Linked DNA regions of Homo sapiens. Changing the gene in region 3 together with the main gene of any one other region gives a genetic interaction. Each region holds a gene or a part of one and is shown on either strand. Other genes may lie near its edges.

Region 1 (4,625 bases), on a different chromosome or scaffold from region 3:
TTTACCGAAAGTGGATTCTCTCCAGCAGAAAGAAAAAGAGTTTTCGGTTATGTGGAACAGTCTCTCAACAGGTAAATTATGTCCAATGGTTTCAAACCTGTTATTATATCCTTAAGGTCATCTGCTTAGTGAGAGTTGCAAGAATACTGAGGCAGTTTGATAAGAGCTGAGAAAGTTTTAAGCTCTGTGATAAACTTGCTAGGGGCTAGGCTCAGTGGTTCATGCCTGTAATCCCAGCACTTAGGGAGGCAGAGGCTGGAGGATCGCTTGAACCCAGGAGTTTGAGACTTGAAACCAGGAGTTTGAGATCTGCCTGGGCAACATGGTGAGACCCCATTCTCCACAAAAAGGAAAAAAAGAGTCAAAAAAACCCCACACACGTACAACTTGCTAGGGAGTCAAGACAGAACAAAAAAACTTTTAAAACACGGACCTACGGGTCTAGATGAACAATAATTAGGTAGACCCAATAAAAACAATTTCACAGATTTCTCTAGAAATATTTAACAGGCAAATAGTATATACTACTGATGAAGAGGGATTTCACCAAGAAAAAGGGGCTTATGGGGTTCAAGGGCAATTTAGGACACATGTCAGTCAAACTGCTAATAGCAGATATGAGCAAGAAATAAAAGTGAACATGAAGCCAGGAGCAGTGGCTCACGCCTATAATCCCATCACTTTGGGAAGCCAAGGTGGGCAGATCACTTGCAGTCAGGAGTTCATGACCTACCTGGCCAACATGGTGAGACCCCGCTTCTACTAAAAATACAAAATTAGCCAGGCCTGATGGTACACACCTGTAATCCCAGCTACTCGGAAGGCTGAGGCAGGAGAATCACTTGAACCCAGGAGGCGGGGCTGCAGTGAGCCGAGATCGTGCCACTGCACTCCAGCCTGGGCGACAAGAGTGAGACTCCATCTCAAAAAAAAAAAAAAAAAAAAAGTGAAGATGAGAAGCAGCAGGAAAACGAAGAAGTTCTGTAAAAAGTGAGAGAAGGAAAGACAACCAAGAAGGTATACAAGCCACCTCTCATTTTACCTCCTATTTAGATGTTATACTGATAGATTTAGTGTAGATGGTAACATTTTAAAACTTGCATATCCTGACTGCATCAATCATTTTATTAGGACATCACAAGGCATATACATAGAAGCTTAATTCAATTTTATGGACTATTTTAAAACAAGCAGAACTAGAACAATACATCTATGCACAACAATACATCTATCCATGATTATAAAAAAAGTAAATCTAACCTTGGTAAAAAGTTTAACTGGATCATATCCAGTTGATTTAGCCCATTCCTTAGTAGAAATACGTTTAATGTCACCATCTTCATTAGATGCTCTAGCTCTGGCTTCGGCTTCCGTTGGTTCCCCTATAAAACGATCATTATTTTATTTTCAACCGTAATAAATGTAGAACTGAACTCTTTTCACTCACCTTTGGGAATAAAAAGAAAGTCACTCATGGAAATCCCCAAATGCAACACATTCTGAGTTCAAGGAATAAGAAAATAACACATTCATCAGCATCTTTTTGTATCCCAGTTTCTTTCTTTCTTGTTTTTGGAGACAAAGTCTCACTCTGTTGCCCAGGCTGGAGTGCAGTGTTAAGATCTCGGCTCACTGTAGCTTCTACCTCTTGGGCTCAAGCCATCTTCCCGTCTCAACCTCACAAGTAGTTGGGACTACAGGTATGCACCACCATGCCTGGCTAATTTTTATATTTTTTGTAGAGACAGGGTTTTGCCATGTTGGCCAGGCTGGTCTCAAACTCCTGACCTCATGCAATCCAGCTGCTTCAGCCTCCCAAAATGCTGGGACTACGGGCGTGAGCCACCTTGCCTGGCCTGTTGTAACTTAGTTTCTGAAAGCTACACATATAACAGTTCAAAGCACAGACCAGTCATGAGATCTAGGAACAACTCGCAGCTCTATTTACTAGACTTGTGAAATTTCTCTTAACCTTGATTTCCTCATCAGTAAAACGGAATCATATTTTTTTTGTAAAACATTGTTTTGGATAGGCACGGTTGCTTACGCCTGTCCCAGCACTTTGGGAGGCCAAGGCGGGTGGATCACCTCAGGTCAAGAGTTCGAGACCAGCCTGGCTAACATGGTGAAACCCTGTCTCTACTAAATATACAAAAATTAGCTGGGCGCGGTGGCAGGTGCCTGTAATCCCAGCTACTCAGGAGCCTGAGGCAGGAGAATCATTTGAACCCAGAAGGCGGAGGTTGCAGTGAGCCGAGATTATACCATTGTACTCCAGCCTGGGCAATAAGAGAGAAACTCCACCTCTGAGACAAAAAAAAAAAAAAAAAAAAAAAACAAAAAAAAAACACATGTTAAACACACATTACCTAGCACATATAGCAATTTTTTTCCCTTAAGCTACCAAAATTAAATCAACAAAATAAAGATAATAGTATCTGATAAAACATATGCCAAATAATTTACTCACAGGCAGCTTCAGGGTCAGCTCTGTCAGGAGATACTTCTTGATCAGCATCTTCTTCCCCAAACAACTGGCTATAATTTAAGAATAGTAAATACTTCTGTATAACAAAGCATTCTAAACAAACATGTAATTTAGAATATTCCAAATATTTAGCAGAGATAAAGACTGAACAACTGGCTGGGCGCAGTGGCTCACACCTTTAATCCCAACATTTTGGGAGGCTGAGGCAGGCAGATCACAAAGTCAGGAGTTCGAGACCAGCCTGACCAACATGGTGAAACCTCGTCTCTACCAAAAATATAAAAATTAGCCAGGCGTGGTAGCGCACGCCTGTAATCCCAGCTACTCGGGAAGCTGAGGCAGGAGAATCGCTTGAACCCAGGAGATGGAGGTTGCAGTGAGCCGAGACTGCACAACTGCACTCCGGCCTGGGCAACAGAGCAAGACTCCGTCTCAAAAAAAAAAAAAAAAAAGTGAATAACGGATAAATGACTATAAACTTAAAAGTTTAACACAATGTGCTTGGACAGCTTGCATCCCAATTTCAACAGCAATGTAAGCAAGGTTAAATTTTAGCAGACCTACATCCATTCCTATCAGCGAGGCTCTGCACATTTCAATGTTAAAACCTCTGCTCAAGAAACAGGTGAGTGGTTTTCACTTACAACCTGGATAACATTCTAACACCAGAATAATGTTTGTGTTTACACCTGCAGCTACCTGTTCAACAAACATTATTATATACCTCAGGTGCAGAGTCCCCATCTAGGGGATAGAAATTCAGCAATGAACAAGATTAACTTTTTTTCATGGTAGAATGGCTCTTTACTGCTGAACAGAGTGTTAACAAACAATTTGAAAGTATTAAGCTGAGATTCTCTTTTATTAATAAAGTTATCCTAAAAACTGTTTAATAACTCATGGATATAAAAGTTTCCAGTATTTCCTCAAGTATATGATTAATGAAAGTTATCTTACAGAAATCCTTTGTACAACCCCCCACCCAACTATAATTTCAAAGCTCTGATAGTCACTCCCAACAATGGCATGTTAACACTTCCTAAAATTAACGCTTTGCCAACTAGTGAGTGCAAAATAGTAGACAGCCGCTAATTTAAAATGGTCCACCAATGATTTTTCACCTTTACAACAGGTTTATTGAGGTTATATTAAAATGCATTTTTGGCTGGGCGTGGTGGCTCACATGTGTAATCCCAACACTTTGGGAGGCCGAGGCGGGTGGATCAACCGAAGTCAGGAGTTTGAGACCAGCCTGGCCAACAAGGTGAAACCCTGTATCTACTAAAATACAAATATTAGCTGGGCGTGGTGGCAGACGCCTGTAATCCCAGCCACTCGAGAGGCTGAGCAGGAGAATCGCTTGAACCCAGGAGGCAGAGATTGCAGTTGCACTGCACTCCAGCCTGGGCAACAAGAGCGAAACTCCATCTCAAAAAAACAACAACAAAAAAAGCATCATTTTTTACTTAATGGTATTTTTTATTTATGATGAGTTTATCGGGAAGTATCTGAGAAGCATCTGTAGCTTACTATGGTCTTATACTTAATTTTCCAAGTAAGTCTTATGATTAAAACATAACTTGCTTATTGCTTATTTAGGTTTCCCTTCGAGTGAAAAATGCTGCTCATATTAATTTTGCCAGATTATCTTTTTTGTGTGTGTGACAGGGTCTTACTGTCCCCAAGGCTAGTGTGCAGTGGTGTGATCACAGCTCACTGCAGCCTCGACCTCCTAGGCTCAAGTGATCCTCTCACCTCAGCCTCCCAAGTAGCTGGGACCACAGGCATGTGCCACCATGCCTTGCTAATTTTTAAATTTTTTGTAGTGATGGGGTTTCACTATGTTGCCCACACTGCTCTCAAACTGCTGGGCTCAAGCAATCCTCCTGCCTTGGCCTCCTAAAGAGCCGGGATTACAGGTGTGTGTCACTGCACCTGGCCACATTATCTTTTTTTTTTTTTTGTCTTTTTCTGAGACACAGTCTCGCTCTGTCCCCCAGGTTGGAGTGCAGTAGCATGATCTCCATTCACTTCAACCTCCGCCTCCCAGGTTCAAGCGGCTCTCATGGCTCAGCCTCCCGAGTAGGTGGGACTACAGGCGTGTGCCACCACACCCCACTAATTTTTGTATTTTTAG
Region 2 (4,625 bases), on a different chromosome or scaffold from region 3:
TTTACAAACAATTTGTACAGTTAATGCAGTGATCACAGGGTCCTGAGATGACATACATTGTCAGTTTATGAAGATGACGGGATTAAGAGATTAAAGACAGGCATAGGAAATTATAAGAGTATTGATTGGGGAAGTGATAAATGTCCATGAAATCTTCATAATTTATGTTCACAGATTGCAGTAAAGACAGGCGTAATAAATTATGAAAGTATTAATTTGGGGAACTAATAAATGTCCATGAAATCTTCACAATTTATGTTCTTCTGCTGTGGCTTCAGCCGGTCTCTCCATTCGGGGTCCCTGACTTCCCGCAACATCATCTATCTTATATCACTATAGAGGGTCGTTTGGTTTTCTCCAGCACATCTGGGCCTAGATTTGAATTGAAGTCTAGGAAGCAGATGGTTGCATTGATCTGAGGTTATGTATGGTCTTTTGCAGGGTGAGTGCACTGAAAGGAAAAGAGATAGAGGCCACACGGGAAAATGGCCAAACTGATGTATATAGTGATACAGTAGTAGGATATGTGTGACCCTGGTTTGATCATTTTGTTTTCTAGCTCAGAAATCTTCAGTGGCTCCCTGGCTTAGGTTCTAAATCTTTGAACTGATGGACAAAGATGAGGTTTTTCCCATAAAGCTGGTTCCAGCTGCTTTTCCATTGCTTTCCTGTTGGACTCATCTATTCATAATGGCTCCCTCTTTGGTTTTGCACTGGCAGTTCTCTGCTTAAATGCCCATCCTATTCCCAGCTGCCTTAATCCTATGCAGCTTTCAAAGGCCCAGTTCTAATCATGCTTCCTCAGACAAAACCTCCTTGACCACTTTAACCTGAAAAGAGTACTAGTTTTTTAGTTTTTTTCAGTATCACGTATTTAGAGCTTGTACTGCCTTATCTTTTACATTGTTTGTTCTATATTTGTGGATTTTATTTCTGCAACTACATTTCTTTTTTTTTTTTTTTTTTTGAGACGGAGTCTCACTCTGTCGCCCAGGCTGGAGTGCAGTGGCACGATCTCAACTCACTGTAACCTCCACCTCCCTGGTTCAAGTGATTCTCCTGCCTCAGCCTCCCGAGGAGCTGGGATTACAGGCACCCGCCACCACACCTGACTAATTTTTTGTTAGTTTTAGTAGAGACGGGGTTTCATCATGTTGGCCAGACTAGTCATGAACTCCTGACTTTGTGATCCACCCGCCTTGGCTTCCCAAAGTGCTGGGATTACAGGCGTGAGCCACCGCGCCTGGCCTCTGCATCTACATTTCTTAAATTTCTTTAGCGCTACCATTGCACCTGCACGCTATCTTTTGCCAGGAAGGTTCTCCCTAAGCATTTAGTAACTGACTATAGAGTCTGACAGATGGAGAGGAAATTAATATTTGGGGCGGGGGAGGGGTTCTGTTTGTTTTGTTTATTTGTCTTTTGAGACAGGGTCTCACTCTGTTACCCAGGCTGGAGTGCAGTGGCACAATTTCAGCTCGTTGCAACTTCAACCTCCTGGGCTCAAGTGATCCTCCTGCCTTAGCCTCCTGGGTAGCTGGGACTAAAGGTGTACATCAGCATGCCCGGCTGATTTTTGTGTTTTATTTTTTGTGGAGACTGGGCTTCGCTATGTTGCCCAGGCTGGTCTCAAACTCCTGGACTCAAGTGATCCTCCCACCTCAACCTCCCAAAGTATTAGTATTACAGGCGTGAGCCACCATGTCCAGCCAGGGATTCTTACTTTGTGCTCAGCACTGGGTAGAGTGCTTAATATCACTGCTTCTCAAACTGTCTTGGTAAAGGACCAGGTAGATTTTTCCCTCAAGCTGTTGCAGATCAGTAGTGTTCTAAAAGCACTTCTGTAAAATAAAATTACTAGAAAAATAACATTTAAAAAGACATAGAGAATACAGGCTTTTTATTATTATCATCATTAGATTCAACAAACATTGGCTGGGTGCAGTGGCTCATGCCCGTAATCCCAGCACTTTGGGAGGCCGAGGTGGGTGGATCACTTGAGGCCAGGAGTTCAGCAGCCTAGGCAACATGGCGAAACCCCATCTCAACTACAAAACACAAAAAAATTAGCCTGGCATGGTGGCACAGGCCTGTAATCCCAGCTACTTGGGAGGCTGAGGCACGATAATAGTTTGAACCCGGGAGGCAGAGGTTACAGTGAGCCAAGATCACGCCACTGCATTCCAGCCTGGGTGACAGAGGGAGACCCTGTCTCAAAACAAAACTGTAAACTGCCTGTCAAATTGCCCTAAGATGTTCTAAGTGCTAATGCTTTCTTTCTGTACTTACCTTGATGCAGACTGCTAATAGTTTGTGGATTGGCAGTGGTCTGAAGACCAAGGTTTGAGTAGCATTGCTTTACATGATCTCATTTACACTTCCCTAATATCTTGTGAGGGTGGGTATTATTATTATTTCCTCAGTATACTGATAAGGAAAGAGATTTAGTTAAGCCACCTGCTCAAGTTCACCAGTTTAGTACCAGACAGAATTGGAATTCAAGTGCTAGATGCCATTTTGTTCATACTACTGGGTCTCAAAGAGGATCCTTGGAGCAGAGTTGGTTTGGGGCAGGTAGAGTGTTTTGTTTCGTCTTCAAAAAGTAAGTTTATTTGGTCGGGCGCAGTGGCTCATGCCTGGTATCCCAGCACTTTGGGAGGCCCAGGTGGGCAGATCATGAGGTCAGGAGTTTGAGACCAGCCTGGCCAATATGGTGAAACCCCATCTCTACTAAAAATACAAAAATTAGCTGGGCATGGTGGCGCGTGCCTGTAGTCCCAGCTACTTGGGAAGCTGAGGCAGAAGAGTTGCTTGAATCCAGGAGGTGGCGGTTGCAGTGAGCTGAGATCGTGCCACTGCACTCCAGCCTGGGCGACAGAGCAAGACTCTGTCTCAAAAAAAAAAAAAAAAAAAAAAAGGTTAATTTGAATTGCAAATACATTTAATATTTTATCTGTTGTTTTCTTTTGGTTCTTGCATTTTAATGCCTCCAAGTATTGATTTCAGATGCATATTGCTTCATCTGAACTGCTTGATACTTAGTTGAGTAGGAAAAGTAACTAACATCCCTTTTAAATGTCCAGTTCCATTGGCTCTGTGGTGTTTGACAAAGTTCTCACCTGGTCTATGATGAAATGTGAAAATAAAGTCAATGTAATGAATTTTTTCATGAAGTCATATTTATTAAATTTGAAGGACAGTATTTTATCCTGAGATTTTTGTCTGTAGTTTTTTTGGTGTTAAAATGGTAGAAACAGAATGCGTATAGTAATTGTGTGGAGTGTTGTTTATAACGGCTGTTTGAGATATAATTCATATACTGTAAAATTCACCCTTTTAAAGTGTACAATTCAGGCTAGGTGTGGTGGTTCACACCTGTAATCTCAGCACTTTGGGAGGCCAAGGCAGGAGGATTGCTTGAGGCCAGTCAGGAGTTTGAGACCAGTGTGGGCAACATAGGGAGGTACCAGCTCTACACAAATTTAAAAATTAGCCAGATGTGGTATTGAATGCCTGTGGTCCCAGCTGCTTGGGAGGCTGAGGTGGGAGGATTGCTTGGGCCAAGGAGTTGAGGCTATAGCGAGTCATGATTGATCTGTACTCCAACCTGGGCTGGTCAACAGAGTGAGACCCTGTCTCAAAAGAAAAAAAAAAAAAAAGAAAACCCCTGTACAATTCTGTGATTTTTAGTATATTCAGAGAGTTGTACAACCATTTCTGCCCACCTCAGCCTCCTAAAGTGCTGGGATTACAGGCGTGAGCCACTGTGCCCATATCAGCCTATTGCATTTGCCTATTCTGGACATTTCATATAAATTCCATCATACAATATATGACCTTTTGTGTTTGGCTTCTTTTTTTTTTTTTTTTTTTTTTTTTTTTTGAGAAGGAGTTTTCACTCTTGGTGCCCAAGCTGGAGTGCAGTGGCACGATTTGGGCTCACTGCTACCTCCACCTCCAGGGCTCAAGCGATTCTCCTGCCTCAGCCTCCCGAGTAGCTGGGATTACAGGCGCCCGCCACCATGCCCAGCTAATTTTTTTGTATTTTTAGTAGAGACAGGGTTTCACCATGTTGGCCAGGCTGGTCTCAACTCCTGACCTCAGGGTGATCTGCCCACCTTGGCCTCCAAAAGTGCTGGGATTACAGGTGTGAGCCACTGCACCCGGCTGTGTTTGGCTTCTTTCACTGAACATGTTTTCAAGTTTCATCTACTTCATGGCATGTATCAGTCAGTATTCCATTCCTTTTTTTTTTTTTTTTTTTTTTTTTTTTGAGACAGAGCTTTGCTCTGTCATCTAGGCTGGAGTGCGGTGGCGCAATATCAGCCCATTGCAGCCTCCACCTCCCAGGCTCAAGTAATTCTCCCACCTCAGCTTCTCTAGTAGCTAGGACCACAAGCACACACCACCACACTCGGATAATTTCATTTTTTAAATTTTTTGTAGAGACGAGGTCTCACTATATTGCCCAAACTGGTCTTAAACTCCTGGGCTCAAGTGATCCTCCCGCCTTGGCCTCCCAAAGTACTGGGATTTCAGGCGTGAGCCACTGAACCTGGCTGTGCCCTTTTTAAATATAGACTTTCAAATTTGAGTTAGCATAATTAGGAGGCAGGAGGATCACT
Region 3 (5,144 bases):
AGGCCTTTGCAAACTGCTGCTTGTTCCAAACGAGACCAAGTCCCCAGACTAGAACACAAACAGGCGCTGCTTCCCAACGCTCTTTTCCACATCACTCACCCTTATAAATTCAACTATAAGCATGAAGGTTTTTCCCTTAGAATTTTGAAGTATATATTCAAAACCCTCAGTGGTTGGGTTGCTGTTCCTACTATTTAGCATTTCTTCAGTAGAGGGGTCAAAAGCACACAAGAAGGACTCGCTCTCCTTCTCTTTTACCCAGGGTATCTTCTTTTTTTTTTTTTTTTGAGACGGACGGAGTCTCACTCTGTCACCCAGGCTGGAGTGCAGTGGTGTGATCTCCACTCACTGCAAGCTCTGCCTCCTGGGTTCACGCCATTCTCCTGCCTCAGCCTCCCAAGTAGCTGGGACTACAGGTGCCTGCCACCACGCCAGCCTAATTTTTTGTATTTTTAGTAGAGACAGGGTTTCACTGTTAGCCAGGATGGTCTTGATCTCCTGACCTCGTGATCCGCCTGCCTCGGCCTCCCAAAGTGCTGGGATTACAGGCGTGAGCCACCGCGCCCAGCCTACCCAGGTTATCTTCATCCTCAAACCCCGCAGGTCTAGGAACACTCTCCATGAACAACCTGACATCAATAAGCAGCGCTGGTTCCACCTTCTACCCTCTACTTCTCTCCCCAGTCCCACTGGAACTTACTACTTTTTTTTTTTTTTTTTGAGATGGGATCTCTCTCTGTCGCCCAGGCTGGAGTGCAGTGGCACGATCCTGGTTCACTGCAACCTCTGCCTCCCAGGCTCAAGCAATCCTCCGACCCCAGCCTACCGAGCAGCTGGGACCACAAGTGTCCGCCACCACGCCCAGCTAATTTTTCTATTTTTTGTAGAGACAGTTTTGCCATATTTCCCAGGCTGGTCTCAAACTCCTGGACTCAAGTGACCCACCCGCCTCGGCCTCCCAAATTGCTAAGATTACAGGCGTGCACCCCCAACTTCTTGGCCACTAACTTTTTAATCTCATTTGCTTGCCCCACCTTACCTCTTCCTCTTCTGCTCCTGGTCCTCTTGGCTTTTCTCCTCTTCATCTTCTGTCTCTGATTCATCCTCACTTCGCTTCTTACGTTTCTTCTCCTTCTCCAGAACCTAAGACCAAGGCAAGTGTGGCTGGGCTAGAGGGGTCACTGATGCAGGGGAACTGCATCAAGAACTCCCAGTCCCTTCTGCATCATAAGCAGGAAAGACTTCCATGTTTCCAATGGTTTACCTAGCTCCTCTTGTCCCTAAGTCCCAGGACCAGGGGCAGAAGTAGAGACTGCTACCCATCTTTTCAAAATGCTGGGAAGTATGTTAAATGCTGTTTATATAGTAGGTACTCAATAAATGTTTACTGAATAAAGAAACAAATGTCTAGCCCATAATGGTTAAGTGAAAACAATCCATTTCCTTATAAATCAGGTGTCTAATTGAAATCCAAGACAACCCTTAACCTAGCAAAAAGCGAGGAAGAGTTTATCAGACTCACAACTCAACCCTTAACCTAGCAAAAAGCGAGGAAGAGTTTATCAGACTTACAACTCAACCCTTAACCTAGCAAAAAGTGAGGACGAGTTTATCAGACTCACAACTCAACCCTTAACCTAGCAAAAAGCAAGGAAGAGTTTATTAGACTCACAACTCAACCCCAAAAGGCTAACATTCACCAGACTGGGGTGGGAGTGGGCAACTAGGAAAAGGGAGTCTAGGCTTTGAGGCTTGATATCTAAAATGACAGAGGTGCAATGTCACAAACAGAAATAGGGAAACAGGATGAGTGGCAAGTTTGAGAGTTCAACTTTAAACATGAGCTTCTGAGGTGCCAATGGGACATTTGAAGAGACTACCAAGAGGAAAGGTAGAGTGGGACAAGGAAGATTACCAAGGTAGCTCTTTTGAAAACACCTACTTTTTTTTTTAAGATGCAAAGGAAGTAGGGGTAGACAGAGAAGCAGCTAACTGAAAGTACAGCACATCAACTAAACCAGAATCTCTAGGAGCCCTGGAATCAGCATTTTAAAGCTTTCCATCTGATTCTCTGGTGCAGTCAGGGTTGAGAATCACTGAGTGTTTCAGAGGAAAGAGTGAGGCAGACTGATGACTGGAAGACAAATACTGCTTTCTGTTGACAATCCAAATGTAGCCGTCAGCCACGGAAGGCTGGGAAGCCCATGCATCTGTAATATATCCAGGAGATCCTCTCATGCCCAGGCATCTGAATCCTCACCTTCTTAAAGTAAGCATACTGGACCAACTCCACAGCTTCCTCTGCATCCTGCAGGTCCACAGTCTTGCTCATGCGGGCCTTCGCATGGGCTGTGGCCAGTCGAATCAGAGTTTCCAGTGTTCGGGCTGTAACTGGAGATGTCTAGGGAAGAAAAGGGAGGATTGCTTATCCCAAGTCTTTTAGGCATGCCCATCAATCCTACTGCACAGAAAGGGAAATGACACTACCAGAAAAGCCCCAGGAGGCCCAAGCAAAGAATTCAGAGTTCTGTGTTCTCTACAGATACCATATAAAAATGAGAAAGATGATAGCAATGATCAAGGAAATATACACAAGAGTGTTGCAGGAAGGAGGAGCAAGTGAACAGGGAAGATTAGGCATCTAACAACTGGAAAGATAAAAAGCTACAGCGTAGAAAAGAGAAGGGAGAAAAATCATCAGTGATTGCAGGCCTGCAATGCAGCAGGAAGTTTGCCTTTATATACATTCTGTCATTTCACCCTCTTAATAACTTGGAGAAGTTTTATACATGAAGGAAATGGGACTCAAAGACCTTCAAGGAGATTTTCCAAAGTCACACTAAAGGAGGGATAGGAAAGAAGTAATCTGAGGACAAAAACGTAACTTCAGTAAACTCAGTCCGGAGAAGGAGAACTCTGACACATTCCTAACAAATGTTTCTCACAGGGGCCGATGAATACCAAACTGGGATGCCTTTATCTTTTAAAATGCTATTGTCTGAATGGCCTTTCTTGACCTAATCAATCAGAATGAATTGGAAATGAATGAATCAGAAATCTCAGTGTTTAGGACTAGATATGTGTACAAGTTTCAGGTGATTCTGATGTATCCAATCCTCTCATTTTATGGATAAGAAAGCTGACCTGACAGGTGAAAGGATTTGTCCACAGTCCAAAAGCTAGCTGCAGAGCTGGGATCAGACATGAAACTACTTCCAGCCCGGACGTGGTGGCTCACATCTGTAATCCTAGCACTTTGGGAGGCCAAGGCAGGCGGATCACAAGGTCAGGAGCTTGAGACCACCCTGACCAACATGGTGAAACCCCATCTCTATTAAAAATACAAAAGAAAAATTAGCCCGGTGTGGTGGCGCATGCCTGTAATCCCAGCTACTCAGGAGGCTGAGGCAGGAGAATAGCTTGAACCCGGGAGGCAGAGGTTGCAGTGAGCCAAGATCATGCCACTGCACTCCAGCCTGGGCAACAGAGCGAGATTCCATCTCAAAAAAAAAAAAAAAAAGAAAAAAAAAGAAACTACTTCCTTCTGTCACACCTCCCGGGTCTCCCATTATATGACCCCATCACTGACGTATCCTGGTCACTTCTTGTTTCAAGTTTCCTAAATTACCATGTATATCCACAATGACATTCAAAAATAAATACATTCACATTTAAATTCATTCATCAAATCTTGTAATAATTTAGAAAGCTACCGGAGTTTGGAAGTCATACACTCCATGACAAGTTCTAATTCTTAAACCACCTAAAAAGCTGGTGAAATCCTGGCCTGCACTAGCAGACCTAGAGAATCCAAATTCTCTTGGAATTCACTTACAGACCCCACACTAAGACAATTAAAATAGTGTATGACGCTCAGTTCTAGGTTCAATGAGAGGGCCTGGGACACACCAGAAGTTCGCATGTGGAAAGGAACAGTTAAAAAGAAAGTAAGCTGTTTAATGAGGAAGACAGGCGATACACAACCTCCAGAAAACAAGACTAACACCCACAGGTAAAAGTTGTGGGAAAATAGGTTTAAGCTTAATAAATATTCTAAAATTTCAAAACAGTGATGCTCTGCGCATGCTGTCACTGGGGGTATTAAGAAGTCCCGGCCGGGCTCATGCCTATAATCCCAGCACTTTGGAAGGCCGAGATGGGCGGATCACGAGGTCAGGAGATTGAGACCAGCCTGGTCAACACAGTGAAACCCCGTCTCTACTAAAAATACAAAATTAGCCGGGCATGGTGGCACGCACCTGTAGTCCCACCTACCCGGGAGGCGGAGGTTGCAGTGAGCCCAGACCATGCCACTGCACTCCAGCCTGGGTAACACAGCAAGACCGCATCTCAAAAAAAAAGTCCCAGCAGGGATTTGAAAAGACAGAGTGGGTGAGGCTTGAGTAGATGATCTGGGATCATGTCTAATCCAAGAATCTATGTCTATGTAACATAATAAGAGTTCTGGACTTGGGTCTTTCTGCTGTAAAATCCTATGTGAACTACACTGCCCCTAAAAGATTTAGACAAATTTGGGCCGGGCATGGTGGCTCACACCTGTAATCCCAGCACTTTGGGAGGCCAAGCCGGGCGGATCACCTGAGGTAGGAAGTTCCAGAGCAGCCTGACCAACATGGAGAAACCTGGTCTCTATTAAAAACACAAAATTAGCCGGGTGTAGTGGTGCATGCCTGTAATCCCAGCTACTCAGGAGGCTGAGGCAGAACAATCGCTTGAACCAGGGAGGTGGAGATTGCAGTGAGTTGAGATCGCGCCATTGCACTCCAGCCTAGCCAACAAGAGTGAAACTCTGTCTCACCAAAACAAAAACAAAAACAAAACAAAAAAAAGATTTAGACAAATTCATGGACACCTATATTAGGTTACCAGAAATTGCTTTGAATAACCATCATGGTTGCCTGTTAGTCATTTTTTCAAAGTCCAGTCCAAATATCATACTCTCTGGGAATCCTTCCTTGACATTCATACCCCTTCAGGGAAGTCTAAAAGAAATTAACAGTTTATTCGTCTATGCTCAAATAGCCTTTCACGTTCATTCCTTTGTAAGTACCACACTGGGGTAAATATTTATAAATATGTACGGAAGTCTTTCTATCTACCTTTGTGCTTCCCCCGCTCCGGAT

The links.
Region 1: changes in MCM3 (region 3) and UBA2 together harm fitness less than expected from each alone (positive genetic interaction), as found in Homo sapiens cells (one large-scale study listed by BioGRID).
Region 2: changes in MCM3 (region 3) and TIMELESS together harm fitness more than expected from each alone (negative genetic interaction), as found in Homo sapiens cells (one large-scale study listed by BioGRID).

What each region holds. Positions count from the first base shown.
Region 1 is NC_000019.10:34,441,757-34,446,381, reverse strand, and holds part of UBA2 (SUMO-activating enzyme subunit 2), read right to left. Parts: intron 2,539-4,625; coding exon 2,471-2,538; intron 1,383-2,470; coding exon 1,261-1,382; intron 1-1,260. UniProt on the Homo sapiens protein: The heterodimer acts as an E1 ligase for SUMO1, SUMO2, SUMO3, and probably SUMO4. It mediates ATP-dependent activation of SUMO proteins followed by formation of a thioester bond between a SUMO protein and a conserved active site cysteine residue on UBA2/SAE2.
Region 2 is NC_000012.12:56,438,426-56,443,050, reverse strand, and holds part of TIMELESS (protein timeless homolog), read left to right. Parts: intron 1-4,625. UniProt on the Homo sapiens protein: Plays an important role in the control of DNA replication, maintenance of replication fork stability, maintenance of genome stability throughout normal DNA replication, DNA repair and in the regulation of the circadian clock.
Region 3 is NC_000006.12:52,266,826-52,271,969, forward strand, and holds part of MCM3 (DNA replication licensing factor MCM3), read right to left. Parts: intron 2,402-5,144; coding exon 2,261-2,401; intron 1,182-2,260; exon of another isoform or gene 1,144-1,181; coding exon 1,040-1,143; intron 1-1,039. UniProt on the Homo sapiens protein: Acts as a component of the MCM2-7 complex (MCM complex) which is the replicative helicase essential for 'once per cell cycle' DNA replication initiation and elongation in eukaryotic cells.